Linked DNA regions of Homo sapiens: region 1 is linked to region 2. The links come from fine-mapping of genetic effects on gene expression. Tissue or cell type: lymphoblastoid cells. Region 2 holds a variant in brackets; the other region holds the start of a gene. All regions are shown on one strand. Distances are between the middles of the regions.

The links. PIP is the estimated chance that this variant, and not a neighbour inherited with it, causes the effect.
Region 1: DAAM1 starts here. The variant in region 2 is fine-mapped to the expression of DAAM1 in lymphoblastoid cells (TwinsUK, PIP 0.95).

The regions. Positions count from the first base shown.
Region 1 is chr14:59,179,641-59,195,945 of GRCh38, forward strand. It overlaps DAAM1 (dishevelled associated activator of morphogenesis 1), which reads left to right and starts at 9,027. Exons shown (of 25, transcript NM_001270520.2): 1 at 9,027-9,128. LOC107984642 (a long non-coding RNA gene) reads left to right here. Exons shown (of 2, transcript XR_001750928.1): 2 at 4,023-4,607. It also overlaps the pseudogene PPIAP5. RefSeq lists enhancers at 8,530-8,769, 9,550-10,309, 10,020-10,179, 10,610-10,659 and silencers at 9,240-9,379, 9,440-9,659.
Region 2 is chr14:59,221,462-59,237,766 of GRCh38, forward strand. All of the region lies in intron 1 of DAAM1 (dishevelled associated activator of morphogenesis 1), which reads left to right. Among named protein-coding and RNA genes, the nearest start is that of DAAM1, 41 kb to the left of the region's middle. The variant G/A (reference allele first, on the strand shown) is at 6,464.

The DNA.
Region 1 (16,305 bases), 42 kb before region 2:
ATAAATCCCAGAGAAGAAAACCTGTCACTCGCAAGAAAGCAAAGCCAGAAAGAAGCATTCCAATATCTCCCTTTCCCCTTTAACTGGGTGGTTAGTCTTCTGACAACCCAAAATATTATTTTAGGAGCTTGAGACACAGGGAGAGGGCACAGACAACCCGAGAGAAAAGGTTACAATCACAGTTTGGTGAAGAGAAAATACTCTCAAAGATAATATGCCATGACATATTGTACTGAAGTGTGGCTTTCCATGAGAAATTCCACATCACAAGGTTCTCATGTAATACAGGACTAAAGTCATCCCTAATCTTAAAATCCAATGTCTAAGTGCTAGCACAACCTGCTGTGAAAGAAGCCTCTTAAATAAATCCTACACGCTGTAATATTTCTGCCACGAAACAGAACACGTGTGCCAGGATAACTCCCGGCAAAGAAAGTTACAGAAACCAAAAGAGTAAACAGAATTCTTTCTGTCCACTCAGCCCATCTTTTACTTGTAGACAAGGTTTTGCCACACATGGACTGCCCATTTTAGGGTTAAAGAGCCCATGCAGAGATTTGACCTTTAAAGAGAAAAAGAAAATGAAAATTGTATGACACCCTCAATAGGGGATATTTTGAAAGCTAACTTGGGATGGTTTGTCTAAAATGTATGACCAGGGAATTTTTACCAATGGAAGGTCGGCAGAGTCTTCATCTGAGAATTCCTGATCAAGAGTGACAGGGCTGGATACCTAGAGGCAAGACCTCAGCCTTCACACCCCAAAACAGCACCATGGCTTCCACATAACTCAGGAAACACCCTCTGTTTTTTATTTCCATTATTTTTGAAAAGTTTCAGGTTGCTATATTCAGTTTTTTGATCCTATCTATATTTCCTAATCAGATGTTCAACAGCTTTAACATCTATGTGACTATGACATGCAAAACACTGGTGCTGAGACCTAGAAAGTCAGTTTTCCCTTATTTGTGTTTACTGAGTATTATGGGTTGAATTGTATTCCCCCACACTCAATTCATATGTTGACTCATATGCTGAAGTCTTAATCCCCAGGATCTTAGAGTGTGACTTTATTTGGAAAAAGGGTCTTTGCAGAGGCAGTCAAATTAAAGTGAGGTCATTAGGGTGGGTCTTTTGCTGTTTTTTTGATTTGGTTTGGTTTGGTTTGGTTTTTTCTTGAGACGGGGTTTACTGCATCACCCAGGCTGGAGTGCAGTGGCATGATCTCAGCTCCCTGCAGCCTCAACCTCCCAGGCTCAAGTGATCCTCCCACCTCCGTCTCCCAAATAGCTGGGACCACAAGCATGACCACCAAACGTGACTAATTTTTGTATTTTTTGTAGAGACGGGGTCTTGCTATGTTGCCCAGGCTAGTCTTGAACTTCTGAACTCAAGCAATTCTCCCGCCTCGGCCTCCCAAAGCACTGGGACTACAGGCATGGACCACTGCCCCTGGCCAGGGTGGGTCTTAATCCAATATGACTGGTATCTTTATAAAAAGGGTAAATTTGGTCACAGAGATAGACATGCATAGAAGGAGGATAATAGAAAGTAGATGGCCATCTACAAGCCAAGGAGAGAGGCCTGGAACACATCCTTCCCCTACAGCCCTCAGAAGGAACCAACCCTACAGACAGGGCTTGATTTTGGACTTGTAGCCCCCAGAACTGTGAGACAATACATTTCTGTGGTACTTTGTTACAGCAGCCCTAGCAAACCAATACACCTAACATATGCTATAGAGCCACATTGTTCTTCCACGTCACAGTGGATGGCGAGCCCTGGGGCCACATCTCCTTCCTTGAGCTGTTTGCAGACGGTTCCAGAGATAGCAGACAACTTTTGTATTCTGACTATTATGGGTTGAACTGTATTCCCCCACACCCAATTCATATGTTGATTCATATGCTGGAGTCCTAACCCCCTAGATCTTTGACCACTGGAGAGAAAAGAAGTATTCCTGCTTTCACAGAATTATTCCAGGGGTTTTATGCCAGGGTGGTGACTTCATATGCCATAGTGGTACTGACACAAGTCCATCTACGGGGAGAAATTTGAGGATGAGAACTTCATCCTGACACATACAGGTCCTGGCATCTTGTCCATGGCAAATTCTGAACCCAACATCAACAGTTCCAGTCTATCATCTGCACAGCTGGGCCTGAGTGGTTGGATGGCAAGCATGTGGTTTTTTGGCAAGGTAAAGACAGAAGGAATATCTTGGAAGGCACAGAGTGCTTTGGGTCCAGAAATGGCAAGACCAACAAGAAGATCGCCATTGCTAACTGTGGACAACTCTAATAAATTTGGCTTGTGTTTTATCTTAGCCACCACACTGTTCTTTCTGTAGCTCAAGAGAGTATCCCTCCATCCCATCTGTTTGCAATGTCCATTATCTTTGTGCTCTTGTTGCAATTCTTTGGGTTCCATATTTTCCTTATTCTCTAAGTCTAGCTGGATTACAGAGTTAAGTTTATAATTATGAAATAAAAAATAAATAACAAGAACAAATGGTTATCTTCCCAAAATAAAATATCACATAGCACTCAAAATGCTAATGATGTAAAAAAATCCAATGAGAGGGAAGATGGTGGGGAGTGGAGGGAGAAATGTTAATATTTCTCCCTCGTTTGTTGGCTCATGGGTGATTTTTATGGCCTTAAGTAGCAATATTTTCTAAATTCTTTACAAAAGACATGAATAACCATTATAATTAGAAAAATATATTAAAAAACTTGGGTACCAGAATACATAAAACAATTTCTTATGGGAATGATCTTGAGATAATTTGGCCTAGTATTTAATTCATATAAATATTTTATTTTAATATGTATATACATAAGTGGACACAAATCTTAAGTGTACAGCATGATAAATTTTCACAAAATAAAGTAGCCACATAAACAGCACCCAGATAAAAAATACCAGCATCCCAGAGACCTCTCATGTTCTCTTCTATTACTATCCCCTAAAGGTAACTGTTACTCTGTCTTCTAACACTATCAATGGCTTTACCTCTTTAAAAAAATGTTACATAAGTGGAATCATACAGTATATACTCTTTTTACTCAGTGTTTTTTGGTGCGGTTCCTCCTATTTTCACACGTAGACATAGCTTGTTAATTCTCATAGCCAGATAGCACGGGTTGGCAAACTATGGCTTACAGGCTTACAGGCCAGCTGACTGTTTTGTAAATAAAGCTTTATTGGAACACAGCCATACTCATTCCTTTATGTCTACGACTGCTTTCATGCTACAATGGCAGCACTGAGTAACTGTAACAGAGATCATATGGCCCTCAAAGCCTAAAATATTTACTATCTGGCCCCTTACAGAAAAAAGTTTGCCAACCCCTGCGATATAGTATTATGTGCCTATGCCACAATCTATTTATCCACTGTACCGTTGATGAGCAACTGTGTTGATTTTAGTTTGGGGCTATCATGGAGTTGCCAGATTTAGCAAATAAAAATACCTAATGTCTCCTTAAATTTGAATTTCAGACAAACAATAAATATTTTTAGTGTAAGTATATCCCAAATATTGTATGGCAACCCTAGGCTATATGAATACATGTATGAATATATGAATAGCATAACTATGAACATTTGAATAGGTAACTTTTGGTGAACACATATACACAACTCTGTTAGGTATATTGCTAGCAGTGAAATTGCTCAGCCATAAAGGATGTGTATGCTCATGCTTAGCAAATACTAATAAAGATTTTTCCAAAGCAGTTTTACCAGTTTACAGTTTCACTAGCAGTGTAAGATTTGTTTCTTATCTTTGGCAATGCTTAGTATAGTTGGTCCTTTTAATTTTAACCAATGTGATGGGTATGTAGTGGTATCCCATTATAGTCTTAATTTATATTTTCCTGCTGACAAATGAATTTAAGCATTAGTTGGGCTGTCTTTTTCGTGATGGCCAGTGATTTATTATATGTTCTAGCTTCAGTTGGTGAACTAGAACAATTATATATCCTTTCTCTTTGTCTCTTCATTTTCTCTCTCTTCAGAATTTGACTTGGGGAAGAAGAAGAAAAGAAGGTGGATTTCAGCATGAAAGAATCTAAACAGTCATTAGTGAACAAATGTGTAGCAGTGCTGTCCAACAGAACTTTCTGAAGAAGTAATGGGAATACTCTGTATCTGTGATGTCCTGTATGGTAGCCACTGGCCTCACACAGCTCTTGAGCACTTGAAATGTGGCTACTGTGACTGAGTAATTGAGTTTTAAAATTTCATCAATTTTAATTAATTGAAATTTAAATAGCCACATGAGGCCAGTGACTACAGAATTGAACAGCACAGGTCTCACAGATGGACTAAGAGTAAGCCAGTTACGAAGAAGCTTATACAGGAAGACCGGCTAAAATATGTCAAAGGAGAGTTTCTCTTTCTGAACTCCGAGGAGCTGTTCAAATAAGACTGGTCTGGAGAGAGTTTTGGGTGGCTGGAGGTATTTTCACCCCTCCACTTACTGTGCCTAACCTTAGTATTGTTGCCATTCTCACGTTTCTGTATGACTCCATCTCCCTTGTTCTGTTCCGATGCCGCTTTTTCAGTTTTTCTGAGCTCTCAATTAAACACAGTGAAATGAATCTCCTCCAAGTGCCTTTTTAGTGACTAAACTGAATAGTTGGCTCAGAATGCTACAAAGTCCTCTCCCTCAGGAAGAACCAAGTTTTACCATTAAGATCCTGATAGATTTACCAGCTTTAACTGACACCTCTTGGGGTGGCTTCCAGATTCACACTTTCTCCTTTTTGAGAAGACTCCCAGACACACGGGGATAGGTCCTGAGTGATCATATTTGAGCCACACAATCTTGTTACGCTTGCTGTAGATCCATGGTTCAAAAACATTCAAGTGTGTCTGACTCAGCTGGAGGACTTGTGAAGACACATGTGGTGGGACCCATCCCTAAAGCTTCTTTTCCAGTAGGTGTGTAGGTGTGGCCCAAGTATCTGCATATCTAACAAGTTCTCAGGTGATACTGATGTTGCTGGTCTGGGGATTGTACTTTAAGATAATTAAGTCAGGGACTGTTGCCTGACATAGGACAATAAGCTTCTCTCAGGAATTTGAAATTTGGAACAAAGAGCTCGGAGTCTTAGTGCTAGTAGACCAGTGCTCTGGAGAGGTCTGAAAACTACCACTGCTTAGGTTCCTAGTTTGTCCAGTTCCTGTTTGTCTTGAGCCTTGGTTGTCTAATCCTTTGAATAAATCCCATTACATTCTTTGTTTTGCATAAACTGGCCATAGAAAGTTCTTGTTGTCTGCCCCTAAAAGAACTTTAACTAAAGTGTGAGTATGTCAGTTAAAGTGTTCCACCAAAAAAACAGAAACGATTCTAAGTAGTATTTAAAACAGAGATAATGTGGTCCAGAGAATTGGCCATACTGTGATAGAAGATCTGTGAAGCCAAACACCCAACGCAGAGATTAGCAACAGCAGGAAGCTATCTCTACCGCTAGGCAAGAGGGACAAAGGGAGAAGGTGGTGTTACAAGGCCAGGGTGACCTGGAAGAAGCTGGAACCATGACAGACCAGTCCAACAAGGAAAATGCTGCTGCCACTGCCAGAAACATCACCCAATGCACCTCTGAGGAAGTGAAGAAATTCCCTAGCTTCTCTCTTCCTCCTGCCTACAATCCCCCAGCAGTGCCTCTCCATGCTGGGAAGCTTGGGAAAAGCTCCCTATGTTACTGAGGACAGCAGGGGATCCTGAGGAAGAACATATAGATCTGAGAACAAGTCAAGGACTGGCACTGTTCAACCCTGAATTTCTCATTTTAGTCTTCAAAGTACATTTTGCCTACTTACCAATTAGAGTGAGATAATATGTGCATGCTATATTCTTTCTAATAGTCTCTGTTAAGAATAAGAATTTTTAATTTAAATGGGTTTTTATTACCTTGTTCCATAATTAGGCCTGACATTTCTGAGATAATCTTTTGGGAAAAATTGCAAATGATATCAAGAACTAACATTTGTATAGTGCTTTTCAGTTTGAAAAATATTTTTACATGCTTCATTTAATTTAATCCTCAAAAACCTCATGAAATATATATTATTATTAACCCTATTTTATAAATAAGGAAACTGAGGCTCAGAGAGAATAAATAACACAAATATGCAAAGTAACATGGATCACAAATAATGGAATGGCACAATCCCAAACCTGGGCTTAGCATACAACCTTGATTGTTGCAAAACACCAAGCTATTGCATGAAAGTACACGCAAGGCTACACACTTTCATTTCTTTCTCTCTGTTGATAACTCATTTCCTCCTTTATCTAAAATCCAGTATCTAGAGTAAAACCTTATAACCAGCACTGAGAGAGGTGATTTTAAAAGATCATCAAAATGCTTCGTGGTGCCTTCTCCTCATCCCCTACCTGTATAGACTGTCAAATCTGTTCTTAGTGGTCTCACAGGTTCCTAATTAATAGGCCACGATTATGGGATGAGGCAGGGCTTTTCATAAGGTCTTCAGAACAGCAGCAGTTATGTAAAATGAAAAGATAGAAAGTAAAGAAACCCATTTTGACTGAGAATATCAATTAGCTAGACAGAGTGGGTGTTTTTGATGATTTATGAGACTACTTGGCCACCTAGAAAAAATTAAATGCAAACATACACAATGATTGTGTATGAAAGTGAGTGAGAGAGAGTGTGTGTGTGAGTTTCCTTCTGTCTCCAAAGAAGTGGTTAAGCCTCCTCTGCTGCTAGTTCTACAGACTGTATTTCTCATGTTAAAGAGCCATCTTTGTTTCCCTTGGTTACCAATGAAACTGTGCAGGGATCAGTTCAAATCCATCACCACTTGCAGATAATTTTTCCAAACACAATGCCCTCTTTCTACATCTATTATCTATATTTATAGCTATTAGATAGGAAGAGCAGTTCACATGTGCATTTCTCCACATTTATGTGCTTACAGTCTATTGTGTATGCTGTCCTTTATATGGAGATGACTATGTCACATGGCACATCCCTATAATATTGTTAAAGAGAATGGAATTTTTGTTTTCAGACAGACTGCATCTTCTCCTTCATTACTGAAGAGCCAAGAGAACTTGTTGTAAGGTGATTTCTCCATTAAAATTACTCCTCAGAGTGTGCCTCAGTAACATACTTTTATCTACAAGGATAAGCCCTGTCTTAACAGAAAGGCTCCACATTCAATTTATTGACTCAATAAATTTCAGGCTCACTGATTATGTTTCAGTCTAAAAGCTTTACACAGTTATAAAATTAGAAGAGCCTTTAGAATCATCCCAGGTCAAGTTTCTCTCTGAATATTTTTCCACCATGAACTGCGTTACATTAAGTCTACCCATTAGTTAGAATATCAGTGATTATATCCTTGATCTGATGGCCAGGGGAAAATTTATATTGTCAGAGTTCATTTTAGATAATATTTGAAATGGAAGAAGTAGCTGAGGACAGAAGAGCAACATTCAAAGCTATCTTCTTTCGGGGGAGAAAAGTGGGTCTTGTCTATAAAGAACAGGCTTGTTAAAAGAACATCAGAATTCATCGCTAAACATCTCTCTGAGCAAAACAAAGCATTTCCTCTCCCCTGAGATCCTCAACTAATTTCATAAATATTTTTTCACTTGAACCCAACTTAGTGTTGCAGAATGAAAGGAGAAAATAAATGATAAGAGTTCCACCAACACTTCAGTAGGGAGTTGTCTGAAATCTTAATTGTGAACCTTTTTTTCACAAGATGCACAGTCTTCTAGAGATTTTGCTAGTGGAACGGGTGTGTGAGCTGATCATTATATGGAATTGAGACACATCAAATGCCATTAAAATTTACATTTACAACTCGAGTAACTAAATGCATTGATTCTTTTCATATTAAAAGACACTTGGTATTCACTGAATAATGAAAAATGCCACGGAAAAAATTATGTATTAACAATACAACCTGCCTAAAGGGTCAGAATTCTGCTACACACCTTTTGCTTACCTTTAAATAAATATTTAGGTGTGTTAAGAGCAGGGCAATTCTTGAACGGCACGATGTTGTTTGGTTTAATGTCTTTATAAAAATATTTGAAAAGGTATGGAAAATGAGGTGAGAGTGTTGTGGATTTAAAAACATGTGTATACATAGATACACAATTATTAAAACTTTAGACAAGGACGTTTTCTTCCTGGGAGTGGAGAGCCACCAGCGCGGGAAGTCTGCTGCAGGGATGAACAAAAGCATGGCTGCACGATAGTATTATCTTTGCAGCAGCAGCAGGCGCCCTGACGGAGGGTTGCGGCGACTGTCTAGTCTATCACACCGCACTTCTGGTAGTGACAACCTCCGTTATTCTGTCAGCTCAGCCGACTAAGTGGTTCCCCGCGTTCTGCCTGGTCACCTTGTCTCCGTTAAACGGGAAGCAGAAAAGAGAAAGGTGAATTGAGGGGGTACAAGGAGATTCCTCCGCCTTGGGACCGGCGTCGCCCCATCCTCTGGAAGTGTTGAGCGGGGAGAATTCGAGGACCGTATTTAACCCAGAAAACAGTAAGCCCTCTGAATTAGCTGCTACGCCTGGGGAAGGCAGAAAAGTCTTAATCGTCCCTTCCCAGCAGGGACCAAGAAAGACCAGTTAGAGCGAGCCTGGCCGGACCACGCGAGCCCCGGACCTCTCCGATCCTTCAGAGCCCGCGCCGGGCAAAGTAGAGGTCAAGTCAACACACACGACCGCAGGGCAGCCCTCCCACTCTCCCGTGCGGTCCGCAGCTCGGCTTCGGAACGACCACCGCTAACACTGCAAGGCTGTAAGGCTGGGAGGGGGCGGGTCCTGAAGGGGGCGGGAATAAGAGGCGGGGCAGAAGGGCGGAGGAGTGTGTCGGGAGATGTAGTTCCGCGAGTCCCGACAGCAAAGCTGTCCCGGCTCCGCTAATAGATTGGGACCACTACTCCCAGGAGTCTGCGCGCCCGACCGGAGCGTCCATGCGCAGTGGGAGCCACTTTGTATCCTATCAGGCGAGGAGAGGGTGATGTCACCTGCGAGTTAGTAACCTACGAGCGGCTGTGAAGGAAACTGTTTAACCGGATCCCATTGTACCCAGAGTGCAGAGCCGCCTTTCCAGCATGCAGGGGCTGCTCAGGTAAGGGGGACGCTCCTCCTTGCCCGCCGCACTCATTCATTAAGTGGCACTGCTCAGTGGTGCGGGGGTGGGCGTGCTTCCGTGGGCTGGGCGCTGGGTTCGCGGCGCGCCCTCCTGCTGCCTCCCCGGAGCTCCCGGGCCAGTAGGTAAATATTAAACCCGTCCTTCAGGTTGGGTCTGGGTGGGAACGGGACCGAGACAGCTCTCGGCTGCCTAGCTGGGGGTGGGAAAATGGCTGCAGCGCAACGCAAACCGAGGCAGCAGGGAGGAAGACGCCCCCAAGGACTGGGGTCCCTCCCTTTCTTTCTAAGGCGCCCGGCTGGCCGAGGAGCTGGCGGGGTAACACTCGCCGCCTTGCTGAAGGCTCCCCGGGGCTGGGGCCGCGGGTACTGCAGCGGCGTCCGCGAGCTCCCGGCCCGGCGGCTCCGAGAGGGAGAACCCCGAGGCAGGCTTGGTGGACACGGCGGTGGCGACAGGGAAGGAGGGACTCGTGTACCCGTTCGCGTCCGAGCAGAGCCCCCAGTGCCCCTGGCACCCTCACTTCCAGCCCCATTCGAAAGGGACGGAGCGCCTGTAATTCAGACTAAGTTGGACCTAAATGTTTCAAAACAGAGAGAAGGGAAATCGGGCGTTGCGGAGGGAGAGCAGGGTGTTGGCGGCCGGGGAGGCTGCGCCGCCTGCGGACCCGGTTGTGAGGCACCGCAGAGGGCTTTTGCCGCCCGTCCCTCTCGGGAGGGCGCATCTCAGTCTCCACGGTCCCTTGGTGTAGAGCACCTGGGCTGGGGCGAAGCGCCTGCCCTGAAGCCCTGGGCCAGGAGGTGGTAGCGCGGGGGTGGAGGTGTCGGATAATCTAATGATTAGGCTCGCTGTGGGGCAGGAGGGCTGGATAATCGGGTTTACCCAGCTGGTTCTGAAAGCCAACTGCTTGTGATCGGCTTGCCCTCTGAGTGGAGACGTGCAGGAGGCCCAGAGCTCTCAGTCCTCTGGATGTTCTTTGCCTTTCCTAGTACCTTCATTTGTTCGTTTACTCATTCATCAAACCCTGCTAAGGTCTCAAGTTGTTCACGGCCTGGCTTTGCGGAGCTACCTCTCGCCCCATAACATATTTAGTGATGCCTGAACTCCATTCCCCTCTCCTTCATCTCCACTTTCTGGAGAGCATCAAGAGCAAATGCCACCGTGACCGTTTTGCTGGTAGTTTCTTGAGATTCGAGCAGGACCCAGTGAATCGAAGCGGAGTTGCCTGCAAGATGAATCCCGTTGCCATGGCGACTCCTGCCTTCGGAATCTTAGCCGCTGCCACTGCTGTTTCGATTCGATGTGGCTCTGCGGGCAGCTGGGAGGGAGTGGCTAGTGGGTGTGGTCAAACGCTCGCCCTGGCCCAGCTGCTCTCTCCTCCTCGCCCCTTTCACAGCCCCGGGACTCTCCCCTTTCTCTCCTAAATAGCTTGGACACAGTTCTAAACCCCTTTCCCTTCCCCGTGCCACACCTCATCACGCCACCTCTCTCCCTGAAACTAATTGTTTGGCGCCTTTTTCCTGAGGCAAACTCTGAAAATTATAATTTGAAAAATCTCTTCCCCCTTTCGGGCTAGCCGCATCATTTCCCCAATAAGGTAGTTTATGGTGTTGGAGGCAGCTTTGTCATGAAAGGCGCCCTCCCCTGTTGTGCATAAAGAGAGCTCTCTGGTCACCAGCAAAGGCCCTCAATTTGCTCTAGGTGCAGCTGATTGGAAGTGATTAGGGACAATTAATAACGGCTGGAAGACACTGCAGTCCCTTGTGGTTCTCATAAAATCTAAAGCCAGGCTAGAGGGCGCAGGTCCTTGAGGGTGAAGCATGCAGGGCCATAACCAGGAGCCTTGGGTCCTACTCTGGCTCTGTCAGTCACTGGCTACTCCACGTTGGGATTAACCCTTTACCTCTGGGAACCTCAGTCTTCTCTTTGGTAATGTGAGGAAAGGGTAGAGAGGGTTTCCTAACGTTAATTCTAGGCGCAATGGCCTATGATTCCAAGATAGACTTGGTCATTGTCCTTTTTCGTCCCCGACCCCAAAGTAATCTGAAGTTAAGGGTTTAAACTTGGCTTCTGATACTGTGCCGTCAGGTTATATGGACAAGGCAGCTATGTGACTATTTATAATACTGTTTATACTACCACTACTATTATTCCAGTATCTGGACCCTTCTAATTATACTTTAGTATTATAACTAATTGTTTAGGTTTTGCCTTTTTATAGATTCCTAATGAATGCAGTTATTTGTAATTGCATTAAGTGTAATTGACATATAAATATTTTGTTTCCCCTCTGCTTGCATTTTATACCAATGTGCATTATCACAGATGTTGCAATTATGGGGGAAAGTGTGTATATGAGAGTGTCTGTGCATGTGTATCCATAGTCAGGTAAATGCTTGGGATTGCTGTGTGCTTGGTGGTTGACACTTACGATCTTATTTTAAGTAGGTAGCTACATCCCCATGAGGAAACAGGATCAGAAGTTGTCACTTTTTTCCTGGAACTTACCATTAAATGAAAATTTCCTTCATTCTTCTGCTTGTCTACCCTACTAGATTATAAGCTCCTTGAGGGCAGTGTCTTTGTTTTGTCCTTTTCTGTCCCCCCAGCATTTAGAGCAGTTTGTTCATTTGTAGGTCTTTAATAAATATATGTTAAACGAATATTAAGTAGCAGAACTATGATTGGAGATCCAAGGTCTATTATTTCCACTGATAGTTCTGTCATCCGTGGTAATATTCCCCTTAGCTTTTCTATCAAGCAGTTTCATTTCATCATAAACCAAAACTTGTCTGGCATAAAAGGCCTTCTATGTATTTGAAATAGACATATTTCCTAATTATTTGCTTTTAGAATACATTCACTCACATCGACTGTTTCTTTGTAGTTACAATTTCTTATTACCCCTGAACCAGGCATTTCTAGATTTCTCTCAGTTGCACTATCCTTGGCCCAGATAATCTTCCCAGGAGGTGTGTGACACGTGAATAGGGAGAGACACCAAGAGAAAGATACCCAGAAGCCTTTGCCAGGCCACCAGTGTCTCCCAGAAGAGCTGGGAGACAATAGTCCTCTCACCTGAGGCAGAGCCGTTCCGTAAACAGGATCAGTTGTTTCAGGCTGGTTGATGTGAAAGAAATGTGAAAGAACATTTGCCCAATATTTGTAACATGTTACCATCCAGTAGTCTGATTCTGTGGGTTTTCAGGAGCATAAATTAGTAAATTAGTGAGGAGGTGTGATAATGAAGAGGGTGTGGTGGGTCACATCCTTGGGTGGTGCTTACAGGAGCTCCATGAATAGGTGCTAAGGAATTTGAATCCTGGCTTTCTTGTTTTGTGGACATGTTCTGCTTGTTAAGGGGTGTGTGTGTGTGTGTGTGTGTGTGTGTGTGTGTGTGTGTGTGTGGTTTTGAGCTACTTTGTTTAAAAGGCTGCTTTTAGTGTTGGCACTATGGTCCTTAAAACAAATAAGGTGTTTACAAGCAAAAGTTCTGATTGAAAGTGTTTCATTTTGTAAATATTTGGGAGATGGCATAAAGAGAAACTTGAGGTCTTGTGTGAAAACACTTTAAAGTTGCAGCTGTTGGACCAGAGGAAACATGCTTTTCCAACAAAGCTTGGTATCCTTGAGTGCCCTAGGTGTTTGGTTCAGGAAATAATCACAGAGCTTGTAACTGCTGTGGGGCCCTCCCTGGCTTCAAGCCGTGCTCTGGTATTTCCAGTGTTAAGTCTATCCTTATATTGCCGGAAACAAAGCAAGGTGTCCAACTTGGGTTAGCAAACTTGTTTTCTCTCTAGAGGGGACACCAGTCAAAATAGAAGTTCTATATTCTGTTGTGATTTTTTCCTCTTTGGATGAGGAATATGGTGACTTATTTTGGTATTACAATTTCTAACTTGGTAATAGAGGTAATATTCTAAGTGAATACCAATCTTAAGTACGCACAGCATCTGTTGTAGTGGTTTCAAGACCTCAAAGTTTAGGCCGGGCGCGGTGGCTCAAGCCTGTAATCCCAGCACTTTGGGAGGCCAAGTCGGGAGGATCATGAGGTCAGGACATCGAGACCATCCTGGCTAACACGGGGAAACCCCGTCTCTACTAAAAATACAAAAAATTAGCCGGGTGTGGTGGCGGGTGCCTGTAGTCCCAGTTACTCAGGAGGCTGAGGCAGGAGAATGTCCTGAACCAGGGAGGCGGAGCTTGCAGTGAACGGAGATTGCGCCACTGAACTCCAGCCTGGACTACAGAGCGAGACTCCGTCTCAAAACAACAACAACAACAACAACAACAAAACCCTCAAAGTTTAGAGGAAATTGATTGCACAGGTACTATTTAAGAAACTGGTACTGAGAGCATTTTCTCTATTTCTGTATGTGGCTTGGAGGTAATGTCTGGTTGACAGATCAGGCTAGGGTGGATGATACCCCTCTTGAAGATGCATTCACTTAGCAAGTGTACTGTCTTTTATGTAGATTATATTATTTAGAGTGGCTGAGGCTGCTGATAGAGACCAGCGTTGAAGTGTGGATCTGAAGTTCACCCCCTTTCTCTGAGCTGTCACCTTGTTTGTAGCCCCACTGAAACAGGGACAGACGAACATGAGATTCAAGTTGATTTTAGTGACCTATATTTCATCCAGCAGATTTTTTTTTTCAGAAATAAAAGGTTACCTTTTAATTTTTTAGTATCCTTTCCACTGTTCTAGGAGCAGGGGGAGAACAGAGCATTTCAGGGAGAGTTTGCATTCATAGTCCACAAGTTTGCATACATAGAACATGTGTCTAAAAATGAACTGAATGTTAAGTCCTAGAAGCACAGCAACAAGTGTGCAGAGCCTTCCCCATCACTCCCAATTAATCTGGGGTTACCAAATACACCCTCAGCTTTGGTGAGCTTGTTTTCCTCATTGATGTTTAAGCGTTCCTGGTTTTTACTCTGTCTGTGACTTTCTGCAGTAATGGCTGTCCACGTCTGGAATGTGCTTCCCTCTGAGTGTCTGGATTATCTTGTGCTTTCATATCTAGCTCAGGTGCCACAGCTTCCACGAAGCCTTCCCTGCCCTTCCTCCTTAAAGCACTTAGCTTGACCACACAACACTTACAGCTAATTTGATACCGATATTGTATGTGAGGTGCCTACCTCATGCCAAGCCCTTTCTAATACTTTCCATGGGCTACGTCATTGACTGCACATAATTATACAAGATAGATACTTTTATTGCCATGTTCTAGATGAGGAAACTGAGGCACAGAGAAGTTAAAGAACTTGCCTAGCTTAGGCCACACAGCCTGTAAGTGGCAGACCAGGTTAGGGACTCAAGCAGTCTAGTTCTTTATACATCCTGATGTTGCCTGGTTTCTGACTTTCCGGCACGTTATTCTTTTCTCTGCAACTCGAGTTGGGGTAATCACAGCTTCCTTTGAGTCTCTTAATTCTCAGACAGTGCTGGGTCAGTAAGTCCTGGATTAATTGAGAGTAAAATGACTTCTTCATGTCACAGGTTCTTACAGCCTGATTTTCTGGAACAGAAAATGTTGTGTGAGATTAAAAATGTTGTTTTTGAGTATTTAAATGATAAAACTTTGGAGCTCTCCTTTGCTGTATGAACGATAGACAAATTATTTGAAAAAGGAAATGCTCTTATATTACAACTCTAAATCTGTTTGGAGCCTGTCCAGCATTAGACCTTATTTGTTAAGTGAGGTAACTTTTCACTGGGTTGAATCCCTCATCTGATAAAAGATCTTCTCACCCTGAACAGGGCCACAGAAGCCTGTGTTGAGAGTTAAGAGGGCCCATAATTTCTCAGCCTCCCTCTTCCCTGTAGTCTTTTAACATACATTGTGAAAGCTCTTTTGAAAAGAAAATAATGAACACTTGAGCAGTAGTCAAACATGTAATCTAATATTGGATAGCCTTAGATATTAAAATAAACTTTTTCCCCCCACCTCAGAAGAGATACTTTTATTTATTTTTACAGTGGAGCAAATTTGGTGCCAAATAAACAATTTCTATTCTTTTAAACCATAGCCACAGTTGTGAATTAAATGGGGAAAACCAGGGAAGCAAGTTCAATTTCCAATGCAGTTGGTGCGATTTCGTGACTTACAATAGATCTTTTCCTTTTGGCTTAAAACTAGATATTGTGCCACTTAGACAATATTTAATGAAGACAATTGACTAAAACACAAGGAAATAATAGGAAAGCTATGCCTTAACGGCATATTGCCAGGAAGGGAAACATGAAAACAAAAGGCTTGTTAGCCATTAGGCTACACAATCATAAAATTTTTTGAACAGACATTGATTTCAGAAGGTTTTTCTTTTTTCTTAATCATTCATCTTGTTATACTTTTTTTTTTTTTTTTTTTTTTGAGACAATCTTGCTCTGTCGCCCAGGCTGGAGTGCAGTGGTGCGATCTCAGCTCACTGCAAGCTCCGCCTCCCAGGTTCACGCCATTCTCCTGCCTCAGCCTCCTGAGTAGCTGGGACTACAGGTGTCCACCACCACGCCCAGCTAATTTTTTGTATTTTTAGTAGAGATGGGGTTTCACCGTGTTAGCCAGGATGGTCTCAATCTCCTGATCTCGTGATCCGCCTGCCTCGGCCTCCCAAAGAGCTGGGATTACAGGCGTGAGCCACCGCGCCTGGCCTCATCTTGTTATACTTTTTAAGTATGTCATTCACCTTTAGTAATAACCTGGGTTTATTCTGTTCTATAAATTACACCAGGATTGGGGTTTTAAGGCTACCTGTATTTCTGCTGGCACACAATTAAGGTCACCTATTAAACTGGTCTTTGTCATTTTTATGTCTAAAAAAAATACCTGCAGTGTGATTGGAAAATGTTGCCTATCTGATAGACTTCCTGAATTTAGGCTTACAAGAGTAGATAGCCCAGATCCTAGCTTTGGGCATTGTTGGGGTAATACAGATGCCCATCTTTTATTTTCTGAGATAGGTTCTTATATTCTGGCTTGTTGGCTAGCTCAGTTTGTTAGTGACATACAAACCAGGTCAAGGGCATGGGTTAGCTTTGCCTTGTTTTGGAGCCACAAACTGTACCTGTAATTCTAGTCAGATTTTTTCTGTATCTTTTTTTTTTTTAAATTAATCATGCTTTTGGGGACTAGACTGTACATTGTGGACATATCAG
Region 2 (16,305 bases):
ATTCCCTTTGCCTTCAGCTGGTTATGATTCTTTATCTGGTCGGGTGGCTTAAACCTTCATTTCTGAAGGGTCTGGATCATTGGCAGTTCTGCCTGGATTGGGTTGTTGTCATTTTTCATTGGCCTTAGTTGCTGGGCATGGTAATACTAAGAGAAGCTCTAAACGATCTCTTGTATTCCAGACATACTTTTCCTTACCTCCACTGTGGAATAGTAGTCCAGTTTCTTCTTGGTAATCTGGATGGGTCACTCCAGCCAACACTGTAACTCCTTTCTTGTCCTGCTGACTCAGAGGCATGAGGAGCCCAAAGTGGCCTGATGTCCTTAACTTGCATTTCAATGGAATTATTGTTGTGTCTCCTGCTGGAAGCATTCTTCCCTCTGGAACTAAGGCCAGCAGAGCATAAAGTTGTGGGAATAGGAAGCAAACATTTTGCCAGTGACCCACTAGGCGTAATGGTGAGTGGTGCCACCCACTCCCATTTCCACTCCTGATTCCTATACCTGTGAATCTTGGCTGTCAGAGAAGCACTACCATATAGCAGATGCTGATTCAGAGCATATACAGTCTTCTGGCTAACCTTGCTCCAAGCCCTGCAAGGTGTTGTCAGCTACGTAGCATGTAACTGAGTCTTCAGAAGGTTGTTCCATTGTACAATCAAATCAGCTACTTCAGGATGGTGCTTTATGATGGTAGGGAACATGGTAAGACTATTGAATTCCGTGAGTTCGGGCCCCTTTCCTCATTTTGTGGTCTGTGAAGTGAGTTGCTTGGTCAGAAGCAATGCTTCTTATTCACTATGATGGTGAATAGGGCATTCTGGAAGTCCATGGTTGGTGATTTTGGCAGAGGCATTGCATGCAGGAAAGGCGAATTCATCTCCAGAGTCAATGTCCATTCCAGTAAGGATAAAACACTGTGCCTTCCTTGATGGAAGAGGTCCAGTGTAATCAACCTGCCACCAGTTAGCTGGCTGATGACCCTGGGGAATGGTGCCATAAAGGGGGCTCAGTGTTGGTCTTTGCTGCTGGCAGATTGGGCACTCAGCAGTGGCTGTAGCCAGGTCAGCCTTGGCGAGTTGAAGTCTGTGTTGCTGAGCCCATGCCTAACCTCCATCCCTGCCACCATAGCCACTTTGTTCATGAGCCACTGGGCGATGACAAGTGGCTGGGAAAAGAGGCTGACTGGCATCCATAGAATAGGTCATTCTATCCACTTGAAATCCTCCTCTGCTGAAGGTTACTCTTTGGTAAGCATTCACATAGGAAACTAATATCTTCATGTTTTTAGCCCATTCAGAATGGTCTGTCAACATACTTCTCCCCCAGATTTCTTTGTGACCGATTTTCCAATCATGTCTGTGGACATCCAGCCATGCCATTGGCTACAGCCCATGAATTGGGTATATAATTGCATGTCTGGCCATTTCTTCTTTCAAGCAAAGTGCACAACCAGGTGGACTGCTGAAGTTCTGCCCACTGGGAGGATTTCCCTTCACCACTGTCCTTTGAGGATGTCACAGGGAACGGCTATAATACTGCAACTGTCCACTTTCAGGTGGTGCCTGCATGTAGTGCAGAATCATCTGCAAACTAGGCCCAAGTCTTCTCTTCCTGTGTCAGCTGATTGTAGGGAATTGCCCATGAGGCCATAGGTGCAGGCTGGGACTAGAGAAGACAGTGTAGCAGGAGTGGGGACTGTGGGCATTTGAGCCATGATGACATTTAACTTACTTGTGCCTTCAGGATCTGCTTTCGCCTGATCGTGTATATACCACTTCCATTTGATGATGGAGTGCTGCTGTGCATGCCCAGCTTTGTGGCTTGGTTGATCATATAATACCCAATTCATGATGGGCAGTTTGGGTCATATGGTAACTTGGTAGCCCATGATTAAGTGCTCATTTTCTACCAAGGCCCAGCCCAAGAGCTGTCTCTCAGAAGGAGGGTAGCCATCTGTAGGTGATGGCAACACCTTATTGTAAAATCCTAAAAGCCGGTGCTGCAATTCATTTGTAGGATCCTGCTGAAGAGTCTAAATGGCATCTATGTCTGCCACTGATAGACACTTCAGGCAATGTTGGAATCTGCTGGATCATATGGCCCCAGTGGAAGAGCAACTTGCACGGAAGCCTGGATCTATTGCAGAGCTTTATCCCATTCTGGGCCTCATTCAAAACTAGCAGCTCTTTGGGTCACTCAGTAAGTGGGCTAGAGTAACACGCCCAAATGCAGAATATGTTGCCTCCAAAATCCAGATGGGTCCACTAGTCATTGCACTTTTTGATGGTAGGAGGGGCCAAATATAACAACTTGTACTTCATCTTGGAAGGGATGTCTTAACATGCCCCACACCTCTGGACCCATAGGCATTTCACTGAGATGGAAGACCTGCATTTTATCAGATTTGTTTCCTGCACTCTTAACACACAAATGTCTTACCAGTAAGTCTGGAGTAGTTGCTGCTTCTCACTCACTAGATTCAGTCAGCATAATGTCATCAGTGTAATGGTCCAGTGTGATGTCTTGTGGAAGGGAAAGGTGATCAAGATCCCTTCACACTAAATTATGATGTGGGGCTGGAAAGTTGATGTACCTCTGAGGCAGCATGGTAAAAGTTATATTGTTGGCCTTGTCAGGTGACAGCAAACTGATTTTGGCTGGCCTTGTGGACAGGTATGGAGAAAAGGGCATTTGCTAGATCAACAGCAGCATACCAGGTACCAGGTGATATGCTGATTTGCTTAAGCAATGAGACCCCATCTGGTACAGCAGCTGCAATTGGAATCACTGGTTTGTTAAGCTTATGATAGTCCACTGTCCTTTTCCAAGATCCATTTGTCTTCTGCACAGGTCAAATGGGAGAGCTGAATTGGAAGATATGGTGGGAATCATCACCCCTGCAACTTTCAAATCCTTGATGGTGGCACATCTCTGTAAACCCTCTAGGAATGCAGTATTGCTTTGGATTTACTGTTTTCCTAGGTAGAGGCAGTTCTAATGTCCATTTGGCCTTTCCCACTGTAATACTTTGGAAGCACGTAACTTGTTTGATTTCACAGGCTTACAGCTGGAAGGGAATTTGCCTCAGATGAATCATACATTTGAGTCTTCCCTATATCTGATTTAGATGGCATTTAGATGAGACTATGGACTTTAAACGTTTGAGTTGGTACTGGATTGAGTTAAGACTTTTGGGGCTATTGAGGTGGAATTAATGTATTTTGCACGTGAGAAAAACATGAATTTTGGAGGGGCAGGGGCAGAATGCCATGGTCTGAATTTGTTTTCCCAAATCTGTATGTTAAATCTTAATCACCAAGGTGGTGCTATTAGAAGGTGGTGTCTTTAGGAGGTCATTGGGTCATGATGGCTCTGCCCTCATGAATGGGATTAGTGTACTTCCTTGCTCCTTCCACTGTGTGAGGGAACGGTGCGAAGGCACCATTCCATGAACCAGAAAGCAGCCCCATACCAGACATCGAGTATGCTGGCACCTTCACCTCACACTTCCCAACCTCTACAACCTCTAGGACTGTAAGAAATAAATCTGTGTGGGTTTTTTTTTTTTTTTTTTTTTTTTTTTGAGACGGAGTCTCCTTCTGTTACCAGGCTGGAGTGCAGTGGCATAATCTCGGCCCACTGCAACCTCTGCCTCCTGGGTTCAAGTGATTCTTCTGCCTCAGCCTCCCGAGTAGCTGGGACTACAGGCATGCGCCACCAGGCCCAGCTAATTTTTGTATTTTTAGTGGAGACGGGGTTTCACCATGTTGGACAGAATGGTCTCAATCTCTTGACCTTGTGATCTGCCCACCTCTGCCTCCCAAAGTGCTGGGATTACAGGCATAAGCCACCGTGCCCAACCATAAATTTGTGTTTTTAAAAAGTTACCCAGTCTAAGGTAATTTGTTGTAGCAGCCTTAATTGCCTAAGACTATGAATCTGTTGTTGATAGTTAATAGCTCTCACAATGAAGCCAAAAATAAATGTGATTAGTGAGGCAACACTGAAGCAAGTGTTTCCCTGTCTAAAGCAAGTTGGGACTTGAGCCTCCTCTTTCTGTGCCTTTGATTTGCCTCTCCTCCATCCTACTCCATGAATTTGTTTAGTACCACTTCTTCCATTAGCTGGTGAGGACACCTGAGGCTAGGTACAATGTGGGCTCTGGGATTCTGGATTTGTCAGGGTGGTGCAGTAGAGTGCTCACAGAGATCTGGCGGACAGAGATCTTGATTTGAGGCTGTCCTTGGGCCAGCTTTAGCCCTGCTGGTACAGATTCTGGGCAAGGTTTGATCTAGTTTCCTTTTTTGTAAAGTATTAAGATGCCTGTTGTCCCTGACTACTGAGAGGGTGCTTGCGAAGATCGAAGGAGAAATAGTACATGGAATCACTTTGCATAGCACTATAAAATGTAAGATCATGCTATTAAAAATAATATGTTGCCCATGTATATCTATGAATTGATATATATATTAATTGAACCCTCTTACTAATGTGGCAAGAAACTCAAGCCCTACGACATTGGGGCAACTAAGAACAACTCTAAGGAGTCTAATGCAACATATACTCGAAATGTGTTTCAGTTGCCTGATGATAATTTTTTTTTTTATATTTGAGTAGTCAACCTGAGACCTCTTATTATTTTCAAGTAGTTTCAGACTGGAACTTAGGATACTTTTCACTGGAATGCATTTGGTAGAATATCCCCTGGGACTTTCAGCTTGATGGAGGGATATTGAACAGATACCTACTTCCTTAGTATATTGCTCTGTTTACTGACTTGGTTTGTACCTCTGTAAGAGCATAGAGAAGGCACCAAGTAGCACCAAAGGGGATATTTCTTTGTTCTTTTCCTTTTAGTTGATATATCAGAATTATTTTGGTTGCAAGCAAGAGAAACTAAATTTAAGACAAACACACACACACACACGTACATAGCAGAAGAATATGGGGCAGTCTTTGTATCTGTAAGGAAGACTGGAAAGCATAGGAGACTTTGGGCATTTAGGGTTCCAGGAAGAAAGTCAATTTCTCACATCTTAGGTCTGCTCAGCATCACATTTCTAGCAGGATTGGGGGTGGGATGGGCCTGACATGATACCAAGAGTGCAGGGAATGGAGGTGGGTCATTCCTTGTAAAGTCAATCTCTGTATGCTAGGCAGGCAAAAACAACAACAGATTTCAGTAGGATTCTCAGTTGTCTGAAACTAGAAGCAATTTAACGTGCTTATTCACTAGCATGGGTTAAGCTGCCTTTTCATTTTTGCTGAAGTAGAAGTTTAGAAAGATGGAAAAGGGAAGGATCATCACTAGATTGGGAAACATTTACCCTGCAAATGCAATAGGAGGGCCCTTTCATTAGAACCTGGGAATGGACTGGGACACTAAGTAGCATCCCTGTACTATTTTAAAGTCCTGTGGATGGCTACATAGGTTGGCATTGCCCAACTCCAGTCACATGAAGTGCAGCATGAATAGTGCCTCTGGAGTTGTACAAGTTATAGTTCCACCTTTCCATGTCTCTGTTTGTCAGATTTTTCCCCCACCTTGTTTTCTACTTTAATTAAAATGCCTAGCATACATCTGTAGAATTTCCAGTAAAACTGACTGTTTTGAATTAAAATATTGAGTTGCCCAGAATAAAATGATTATATGGTATACCTTTAAAGTGCGTCTTTTACATTCCAGTTTAAGCTTCTGGTTCTTTACAGACTCCCTTACAAATACTGTTGGTGCTTTCATAAAGTGACTTGTGTACAGAAATAGGCTTACATGTGAACAAGGATGGTGTGAACAAGGATGGTGTGGTGTACCTTTTCATTTCCTTTTCTTTGCCCCTTACTCCTGAAAGTATGCTTTCAGGGAATAGGAGGGGAAAAGTCTCTGGTTCCCCATTACAGACTGACTATGTAGGTCACCTTCTTGTTATCTTACGTAGTTTCACTGAGACGGCCATGAGATTGTGAGACCTGTGTTTGTGTGAAGGTCCTGAAGGACTTGTTTGGGATGGCCAGGTACTAGAAGTATGATTTGCAAGTTTAATTTGTTCCAACACCTAATATTCCTATAGTATTTATCTTGTGCTGCATAAAATATGCAGAAAAATGGGAGGATTCACATATAGGCTTGGATTCTCCCCATGTCTCATTATCTCGATTATGTGTCACCTCGTGCTTGTTCCACTTTTTCCAGTTTTCCAGACCAGATCTGGTGCTCCAGAACATGATTAGGAGAAGCTGTTCACATTGTAAGCCCTTTCACTAAACTTGATTCTTTTGAGGGTAGGGATAGGTTGTGTTTCCATCAGTGCTGGGCACACAGAGGACACGTAGTCCAAATGTGTTTGAGTTCATAGAGCACCCATAGGGGCACCCAGGACTAATGAATGAATGGTACTCCTTGTTCCACAGGCAGGCTATCCCAGTGAGACGCGGGGATTTCTTACCCCTAGTCATTGCTACCA[G/A]TTTGTATCTCTGCCACACACCGAAACAGTTGAGGCAGGAGTCTTCTAGAAAAGGTTTACCTGCAAGTAAAGACAACTTAGAGCATAGAACTTGGTTACTAGTAGAAACCCTTTGAACTTTTTTGAAGAAGTCCTGGAATTACATGTTTCAACCCACAAGTTGTTTTTTCTTACCACTTTTTTTTTCTTCTAAATCTTAAGGGAAGAAAAAAAATCATAGGCTGTAATAATGAAATCTTTTAAATTTGTGGCATGATGGGAAAATGTAATCACAGTGTCAACATTCTGTCATTCTCTATTCATCTTTCTTTATGGAAAAAAATAATTACGGTGGTTTTCACTGACAAAGTTCCAAGGATCTAATGGTTTCCCATGACATAAGTTAGATGTTAAAGATGTGTAACCTATAGGTAATATCAGCTTCTCAGAAAATTTAGAAATGATACTCTTGCCCAGTATTGTGTCTCCCTCCTCCGCTCCCCAACTTCCAAGAAAAAAAACTAAAGGAAGGGGAAATTGTATTTTTACTATTGGTTGAAAATGGTTCGGAGTATCACTTGACTTTTAATGAAATCTGGAAATTCACTTAACTCCAACTGCTTTGTCTTCCCACACATTTCGAATGAATGTTAAAAGGAAAATACCTCTGTAGAAACAGGGCTATTTTTAGATTTCACTCATATATTTGGGTTTCATCACTCAGATTCTTTTCCCTCAGGGCCAGAGAGTCGTATTTGTGTGTTCTGTGCTTGATGGCTTTTTCTTATTCTCCACTCAGAACCACCTGGAGGCCAGCACACTCAGTCCACATGTCCACTTATAATCTGAATAAATCATGTATTTTCCTTGCCTACCTTTTCCCTCTGCCTTTCCCCCAAGTGTTGTAGATCAAAAGGTTACTTTGTTTTGGACTTAGCTATGGTTTTAAATAATTTATTTCACCTGGATTCTAGTGGCAGTCCATTGGTAGAATGGATACTCTGTTTCCGTCTTTTCCCTGAGTTCTAAAACACTTCAATTTTTGATTGACTTTTAAAAGTTACATTGTATTTAGAAAATGTTAGAGAAATAGTCTAACAAATTCCTTTTAATGAGGATTTGGTTATGAATATTGTAGTTCTGATTAGCAAGCAAGTATTAAAACTAAAAAGCATTTAATGGGCTGATTTTGAAGACTCCTCGCAGGGTGTTTCTTCCATGTGTGCCATTTTGCCCAGCCCTACATGTCAGCAGTGGAAGATATTTTGATTTAGTATGTTTTTACCAAAGACACTCCCACTTTTCATTGAGCGAATGATGCATTTTGTAGTGTGTTTTTCATTATGGTTAGAGGAGATCTTCCTTGAGACCAGTGTGTCATTTGGCTTTTGATTTTTGTGAGTTGTTACCTCTTTAGTCCTAAACTGTAACTTCATCGTGCAAGGATTTAACCCTAAGCATCACCCTAAATGATGTAGCATTGCATGTCAGGTATTTACTAATTCGTCTTTATGACATACTGATATGTTTTAAAAGCCTATATAATACCCTTGATTTATAAATTCACTTCACATTGCTCTTCAGAGAAGGTGTAGGTAAAACCAAGAATAAACATACAAACAAGATTAAAATGAAGACCCACACTGACTTACTATCTGTCCTGGCCCTTTGTGTATTTATTCTACTCTCATTTTTGAAGTAAATCCAGTAGGAAGATTTCTTCTTTCTTTACTTCCTAAGAGATGGCCAACAGTGGAGTTCTAAGTTCCAAAAACATGGTAACAGTAAATAAAGTAGTGTAAAACCTGGTTGATTAAACTTCTTGGTTGAAATTAAGTAGAAGGAGGCTTAATCCCACCTTGTGGGTTAGTTTCTGCTTTTAGCAAGCCCTCAGAGGCACTTCAGTGAAGGCATGGCTCTGGCTGGTGGTTTCCATCCTGATAGGTGGCCATGGCTATTTTCCTGTCTATAAATAACTGTTCACCAGGTTGAAGTGAATGCCAAATAAGCTTCTCCCACCACCACCCATCTTAATAGTAGAATGTTTGAGATAATGGAACAGTGATAAGGGTAAATAAATTTAGCACTGTCAACCTACCAGCATAAACCTTAGCTGATTTTAAATTTAAGGCCCACTATTAACTCTCTTACCCTTGCAAATTGAATTTCAGCTGTGATGTAGTTGAGACAAACCACACAACAGATCCGTCATTTCTCTTTGTGAAACAGCAGGTACCTGGGTGTGCCTCTTACCACTTCCTTACAAATGGGTCCCCTCAGGTGGCTGCAATGGAACTAGACTCCCAGTAGCCTTTGTTACTTGGAAGTCTGATTGGGGCAGCACAGAGACTCCTGTAACTGGAAGCAAACACTGCAGCCGAGGGGGGTGATGCTTAGAGGCTTTTTTTTTTTTTTCCCCCCACAAGCTAGGATTCCCTTACCCAGGAGGCATTGGTGTGCCACGGGGTTAACATGGAGCCTCTTCCTGGGCTGGGTTTCTTTCTATCCAAACAAATTAAATACTTAAAAAATATAACAGATACTAATTAAATTCACCAGAGACTACTAAGTTATGTAAATATAAAAAGCATTATTCATTGCAAGTTCTCTCTTATTTGTGGGATCTAAAAATCAAAACAGTTGAACTCATGGACTTAGAAAGTAGTAGAAGGATGATTACCAGAGGCTGGGAAGGGTAGTGGGGGGCTTGGAGGGAGTGGGGAAAGTTAATGGGTACAAAAAAACTCAGAATGAATGAGACCTACTATTTGACAGCATAACAGGGTGACTGTAGTCAATAATAACTTAATTGTGCATTTTAAAATAACTGAAAGAATGTAACAAAGGATAAATGCTTGAGGGGAGGGGTGGGAGGGGTACTCCATTCTTCATGATGTGATTATTTCACAGTGCATGCCTGTATCAAAACATCTAATGCACCTCACAGATATGTACACCTATATACCCATAAAAATTAAAAATAAAAAGTTTGTAAGCATTATTATATGGCATGTGGGATTCGTTCCACTATCTTTGTTGCCAGAATTAAAAATGTTCTCTGTTGAACAACTGTGCACTTGCTGTCAATGTCTTATGCTGCTTAAAATTATGTAGACACTAAGACAGATCAAATTCAGATATTTCAAGCAGGCAGGTGATGTACTGAACATGGGAAGGAAAGTACATATTACTTTGTTTATTAAACACACAAGAATATATTCATTTCCACTTCCTTTTTCTTCAAACATATGGCACAGCATATTATTTTCCCACTTAATATTTTTAATTGACAAATCATAATTGCATATATTTATGGGGTTCAATGTGATGTTTTGATTTATGTATACAATGTAGAACGATTAAATCAAACTAACATCTTATATTTCCCCACCTTTGATACAGATGTAAGCACAAGAAATATTTTACTTCAAATTTTTCTAAGTAGGAAAAGTGCAAGCAATAATGATGAAAAATGGTGAATGAGCCCTACCCTTGAAGTTAAGAAAGGGTAGGGAGTAGTGGGGACCATGGCAAACTCAGCATCAGATTTGTTGATGCTTGCGAATGAAAGTCGAGCTATTTGGCAATTAATAAAACCACATTTAAAAACACGTTATTATTTTTTAAGGGAAGTATTTTGTTTAGTGATTAAGACGTTGGCTCTAGAGTCAGACAGCCAGGGTTCAGATCTCAGTTGTACCATTCATTATCTGTGCAACCTTGGCAGTATACTTAATCTTTGGGCCTCAGATCCTCACTGTATAACATGCCAGTAATAAAACTCACATCACCGGCTTGTAGTTAGAACTTGATGAGGAATCCATTGGAAGAACTCAGTGCCTGGCATACAGTATGTGCTTAACAAACTTTAGCTACTATATTGTTGGTCAACACCGAGGAGGTCTACCAAAGCATATAAGTGGACCTCTGCAGTGGACTAAATATGTCCTTTCAAAATGCCTATGTCAAAATCCTAATCCCAGTGTGATGGTATTTGGAGGTGGAGTCTTTGGGAGGTAATTTTATGAGGACTCAGCATGTGAAGTGGTGGGCACATTTGAGAAATATACTATTTGTTGAGAACTTAGTAAAGTATGCTCCAGCCTGAGAGCTAGTACTATTTTATCCCCACTTTACAGAGAGGAAACAGATAGCAAGTTAATTCTCTTGGGAAGTTGTGCCCTGGATTTCTCCAGCAGTGCTGCTGCTTAAAGGTTGGCACTTCAGCATATTTCTCACCTTGTTTTTCTATAGCCTATTCAAGTCTGGTTATAAACACCCATACCTGTCACCACACAGCATTTACCATGAGGAGAGCTTGTTCTGCAGATCCAAGCATTGTCAAGGCCAGTTGGATGTCACACCTCCAGAGAATATCGAAACTACTGGTTCTTCCTAAATGTATACTGGTCACTGAGAGTCATAGTTTTATCAGAGAACCTCTCTGTCTTAGCCTTCCTGCAGAAGACCTTTGACTTCCTTTATTCTTGAATCTAAAAATGCAAAGTTGTCTTTTCAGATTCATAAATCCCCTAAAAAATCAGAGGGGCAAGGACATTAACAAAGGAGATGGATATGGTGGCTGTTCACCAACATGTTGAAATTCTGTACCCTGAAACAGTCTTCTGTTTAGTTTGGAATGATAAAATAAGCCATGTAGTATGTCTCTACAGGTTTCAGAGGAATATATTGCATTTCTTTTTTTTTCTTTCTTTTTTTAAAATTTTCTCTTTTTTTTTTTCTTTTAAGTTCTGGGATACATGTGCAGAATGTGCAGGTTTGTTACATAGGTATACATGTGCCATGGTGGTTTGCTGCACCTATCAACCTGTCATCGAGGTTTTGAGTCCTGCATGCACTAGTGTTTGTCCAAATGCTCTCCCTCCCCTTGCCCCTCACCCCACAACAGCCCCTGGTGTATGTTGTTCCCCTCCCTGTGTCACGTATTCTCATTGCTCAGCTCCCACTTATGAGTGAGAACATGTGGTGTTTGGTTTTCTGTTCCTGTGTTAGTTTGTTGAGGATGATGGCTTCTGGCTTCATCCATGTCCCTGCAAAGGACATGAGCTCATTCTTACGGCTGCATAGTATTCCATGGTGTGTATGTACCACATTTTCTTTATCTAGTCTATTATTGATGGGCATTAGGGTTGGTTCCATGTCTTTGGTATTGTAAATGGTGCTGCAATAAACATACATGTGCATGTGTCTTTATAGTAGAATGATTTATATTCCTTTGGGTATATACCCATTAACGGGATTGCTGGGTCAAATGGTATTTCTGGTTCTAGATCCTTGAGGAATCACCATGCTTTATTCCACAATGGTTGAACTAATTTATATTCCCACTAACAGTGTAAAAGCGTTCCTATTTCTCCTCAGCCTTGCCAGCATCTATTGTTTCCTGATTTTTTAATAATCGCCATTCTAACTGGCAAGAGATGGTATCTCATTGTGGGTTTGATTTGCATTTCTCTAATGATCAGTGATGATGAGATTTTTTTCCTATATTTGTTGGCTGCATAAATGTCTTCTTTTGAGAAGTGTCTGTTCATATCCTTTGCCCACTTTTTGATGGGGTCGTTTGTGTTTTTCTTGTAAATTTAAGTTCCTTGTATTTTCTGGATATTAGACCTTTGTCAAATGGGTAGATTGCAAACATTTTCTCTCATTCTGTAGGTTGCGTGTTCATTCTGAGGCTAGTTTCTTTTGCTATGCAGAAGCTCTTTCGTTTAATTAGATCCCATTTATCAATTTTGGCTTTTGTTGCAATTGCTTTTGGTGTTTTAATCATGAAGTCTTTGCTCATGTCCATGTCCTAAATGGCATTGCCTAGGTATTCTTCTAGGGTTTTTATGGTTTTGAGTTTTACATTTAAGTCTTTACTCCATCTTAATTTTTGTATAAGATGTAAGAAGGGGGTCCAGTTTCAGTTTTCTGCATATGGCTAGCCAGTTTTCCCAGCACAATTTATCAGATAGAGAATGCTTTTCCCATTGCTTGTTTTTGTCCAGTTTGTCGAAGATCAGATGGTTGTAGATGTGTGGCATTATTTCTGAGGTCTCTGTTCTGTTCCATTGGTCTATATGTCTGTTTTGGTACCAGTACTGTGCTGTTTTGGTTACTGTAGCCTTGAAATATAGTTTGAGGTCAGGTAGCATGATGCCTCCAGCTTTGTTCTTCTTGCTTAGGATTGTCTTGGCTGTGTGGGCCCTTTTTTGGTTCCATATGAAATTTAAAGTAGTTTTTTTCTAATTCTGTGAAGAATGTCAATGGTAGTTTGATGGGAATAGCATTGAATCTATAAATTACTTTGGACAGTGTGGCCATTTTCATGTTGATTATTCCTATCCATGAGCATGGAATGTTTTCCCTTTTGTTTGTGTCCTCTCATTTCCTTGAGCAGAGTGGTTTGTAGTTCTCCTTGAAGAAGTCCTTCACGTCCTTTGTCAGCTGTATTCCTAGGTATTTTATTCTCTTTGTAGCAATTGTGAATGGCAGTTTATTCAAGATTTGGCTCTCTGCTTGTCTATTGGTGTATAGGAATGCTTGTGATTTTTGCACATTGATTTTGTATCCTGAGACTTTGCTGAAGTTGCTTATCAGCTTAAGGAGTTTTTGGGCTGAGATGGTGGGGTTTTCTAAATATACAATCATGTCATCTGCAAACAGAGACAATTTGACTTCCTCTCTTCCTATTTGAATACCCTTTATTTCTTTCTCTTGCCTGATTGCCATGGCCAGAACTCCCGATACTGTGTTAAACGGGAGTGGTGAGAGAGGGCATCCTTGTCTTGTGCTGGTTTTCAAAGGGAAGCTTCTAGCTTTTGCCCATTCAGTATGATATTGGTATGGGTTTGTCATAAATAGCTGTTGTTATTTTGAGATGTCTTCCATCAATACCTAGTTTATGAGAGTTTTTAGCTTTATTGAGAGTTTTTAGCATGAATGGATGTTGAATTTTATCAGAGGCCTTTTCTGCATCTATTGAGATAATCATGTGGTTTTTTTCCTTGGTTCTGTTTATGTGATGGGTTGCATTTATTGATTTGTGTATGTTGAACCAACCTTGCATCCCAGGGATGAAGTCGACTTGATCACGGTGGATAAGCTTTTTGATGTGCTGCTGGATTTGGTTTGCCAGTATTTTATTGAGGATTTTTGTCTCGATGTTCATCAGGGATATTGGCCTGAAGTTTTCTTTTTTTGTTGTGTCTTTGCCAGGTTTTGGTATCAGGATGATGTGGGCCTCATAGGATGAGTTAGGGAGGAGTCTCTCCTTTTGAGTTGTTTGGAATAGTTTCAGAAGGAATGGCACCACCTCATCTTTGTACCTCTGGTAGAATTCAGCTGTGAATCCATCTGGTCCTGAGCTTTTTTTGGTTGGTAGGCTATTAATTACTACCTCAATTTCAGAACTTGTTATTGGTCTATTCAGGGATTCGACTTCTTCCTAGTTTAGTCTTGGGAGGGTGTATGTGTCCAGGAATTTATCCATTTCTTCTAGGTTTTCTTGTTTATTTGCATAGAGGTGTTTATAGTATTCTCTAATGGTAGTTTGTATTTCTGTGGGATCAGTGGTGATATCCCCTTTATCATTTTTTATTGTGTGTATTTGATTTTTCTCTCTTCTTTATTAGTCTAGCTAGTGGTCTATCTATTTTTTAAATTTTTTCAAAAAACCAGCTCCTGGATTCATTGATTTTTTTGAAGGGTTTTTCATGTCTCTGTCTCCTTCAGTTTTGCTCTGATCTTAGTTATTTCTTGTTTTCTGCTAGTTTTTGAATTTCTTTGCTCTTGCTTCTCTAGTTCTTTTAATTGTGATGTTAGGGTGTTGATTTGAGATCTTTCTAGCTTTCTGATGTGGGCATTTAGTTACATAAATTTCCCTTTTAACACTGCTTTAGCTGTGTCCCAAAGATTCTGGTATGTGAATATATTGCATTTCATCCAAACCAGCCAATTGCTTTGAAAGAGTTATGGTGGAACACGCATGCAGCTGGTGCACAGAGGTGGAGCGGAGACAGACCTCACTTCGTCAAATGAATAGCTTGATATACTTAGGAAAATAGACTTGATATGCTTAATAATGGGAAATTCCCTTTCTTAAAAAAAATCCCATATTAAATGGTTACTCCATGGCTTTATAATGAGAAGAGCCCTAAATTTTGTTCCCCCCAACCCACTTTATTTACTTATTTATTCATTCATTTATTTATTTTTGGAGAATTGCCTCTTTAGTATGAAGTGTCATTAATAGTGTTCTTTCCTGAGCTGCTAGGCATTTGAATCTTCAGGTAATTTTTAGCAGATCAAAGGGAAGAAGTTGTAGTAGAATGACTAGTTTTCTATCTAGTAGGTGTTGTTTTGTTTTGTTTAATAACTAAGGACCTGAAGATGGGAAATCATTAGAATTATAATGCTCTCTGTTACTCATCACACATGGTCTGGCTCTTGCTAAGCCCTGTGACCTGGCTTCTTGCCTCTTCCTCTTGTCCACTGTGCTTCAAGTACATTCGCCGCCTTTTTGTTTTTGAGCATGCCTCACCTTTTCTCCCTTCAAGCATTTGCTCTCTGGCTGGAACACTCTTTTCTTAGATTTTTGCATGGCTGTCTTCTTGTCGTCGTTTAAATATTATTTTCAGTGCCATCTTCCCAGATGTTATCTTCATGACTTTGCATTTTCTAAAGAATCACTCTTCCTTTAGCATCTCTGGCCAAGCTCTCTAAATATCCTGTTTTATCCATCTGAAATTAGAGTGATTATCTTTGTCTGTCTCCTCTCACTAAACTGTGACCTCTGTGATGACTCAGGGTGGGTAACGCTCATCTGTCTGGTTCATTGCTGGGCCTCCAACACCTAGAACAGTGCCCAAAGGTGTTCAGTGTATGTTTGTAGAATAAATTAATTAATTTATTTGTAATATAAGTGGTTTTGAAAACTTTCCCAAACTTCTCTTGTTTCATGTACTTAATGGAGAGCAGGGATCAGCAATTTTTTTCTGTAAGGGGCTATGTAGTACACTTATTAGGCTTTGGGGGCTAAAAGATCTCTGAGACAACTACTCGGAAAGCAGCCACAGACAATATGTAAACAGGAGCCTAGCTGTTATCCAATAAAACTGTATTTACCAAAACTGTTGGTGAGGGGGCACTTAGCATTTAGCCCTTGGGCCGCAATTTGCACACCCCTAGCATAGAGTCAGTTTTAACCTACACGTGCTGGAATATATGTGGAAAGGGTGGATTGGAAGAGTGGTTGTCTTGATTACAAGCTCAGTTCATTTAGTTTTCAGCCAGGGAAATGTGAACATCTATTCTTGTTCTGTCAGAATAGAATGTATAGTGAAAACTATTTGTAGCATGATGGAGATAGAAACATTCCAAAAGAGAGACATCCCGCCAGGTGGTGGAATACATATTAGAGGCTGTTGAAAAATTAAATACTGATCAAGCACTTAAGTACTGCAGGATTGTGGAAATACCAAGAGAAATAGTTCTAAGAACTGAAAGTTGAAAAAGTGTATTTTGACCACCCCTGAGCAAGCTAAACAATATAGGATTGCATTTAGGCTAATGTGGAATAATTTACATAAGAAGTGAATTTAGAAAATGAAGTGATCTGACCTCATAGAGCATTTTGTCATATACTTTTTCTAATGAAGGAAGAATAAACTCAAGGATATTTACGCTATTGGGCCTACATTTGAAAACTTGAATTTATAAAATATTTTGTGCCAGGATTGATATAGGCCTTATTGCATCTAATAAGACACTACCACATGTCTGAGCTTTCCTGTTAGCCGAAAAAACTGCTAGTCCCTGGATCTTCTCCCTACTTTCCACAGCACTCACCAAAGCAG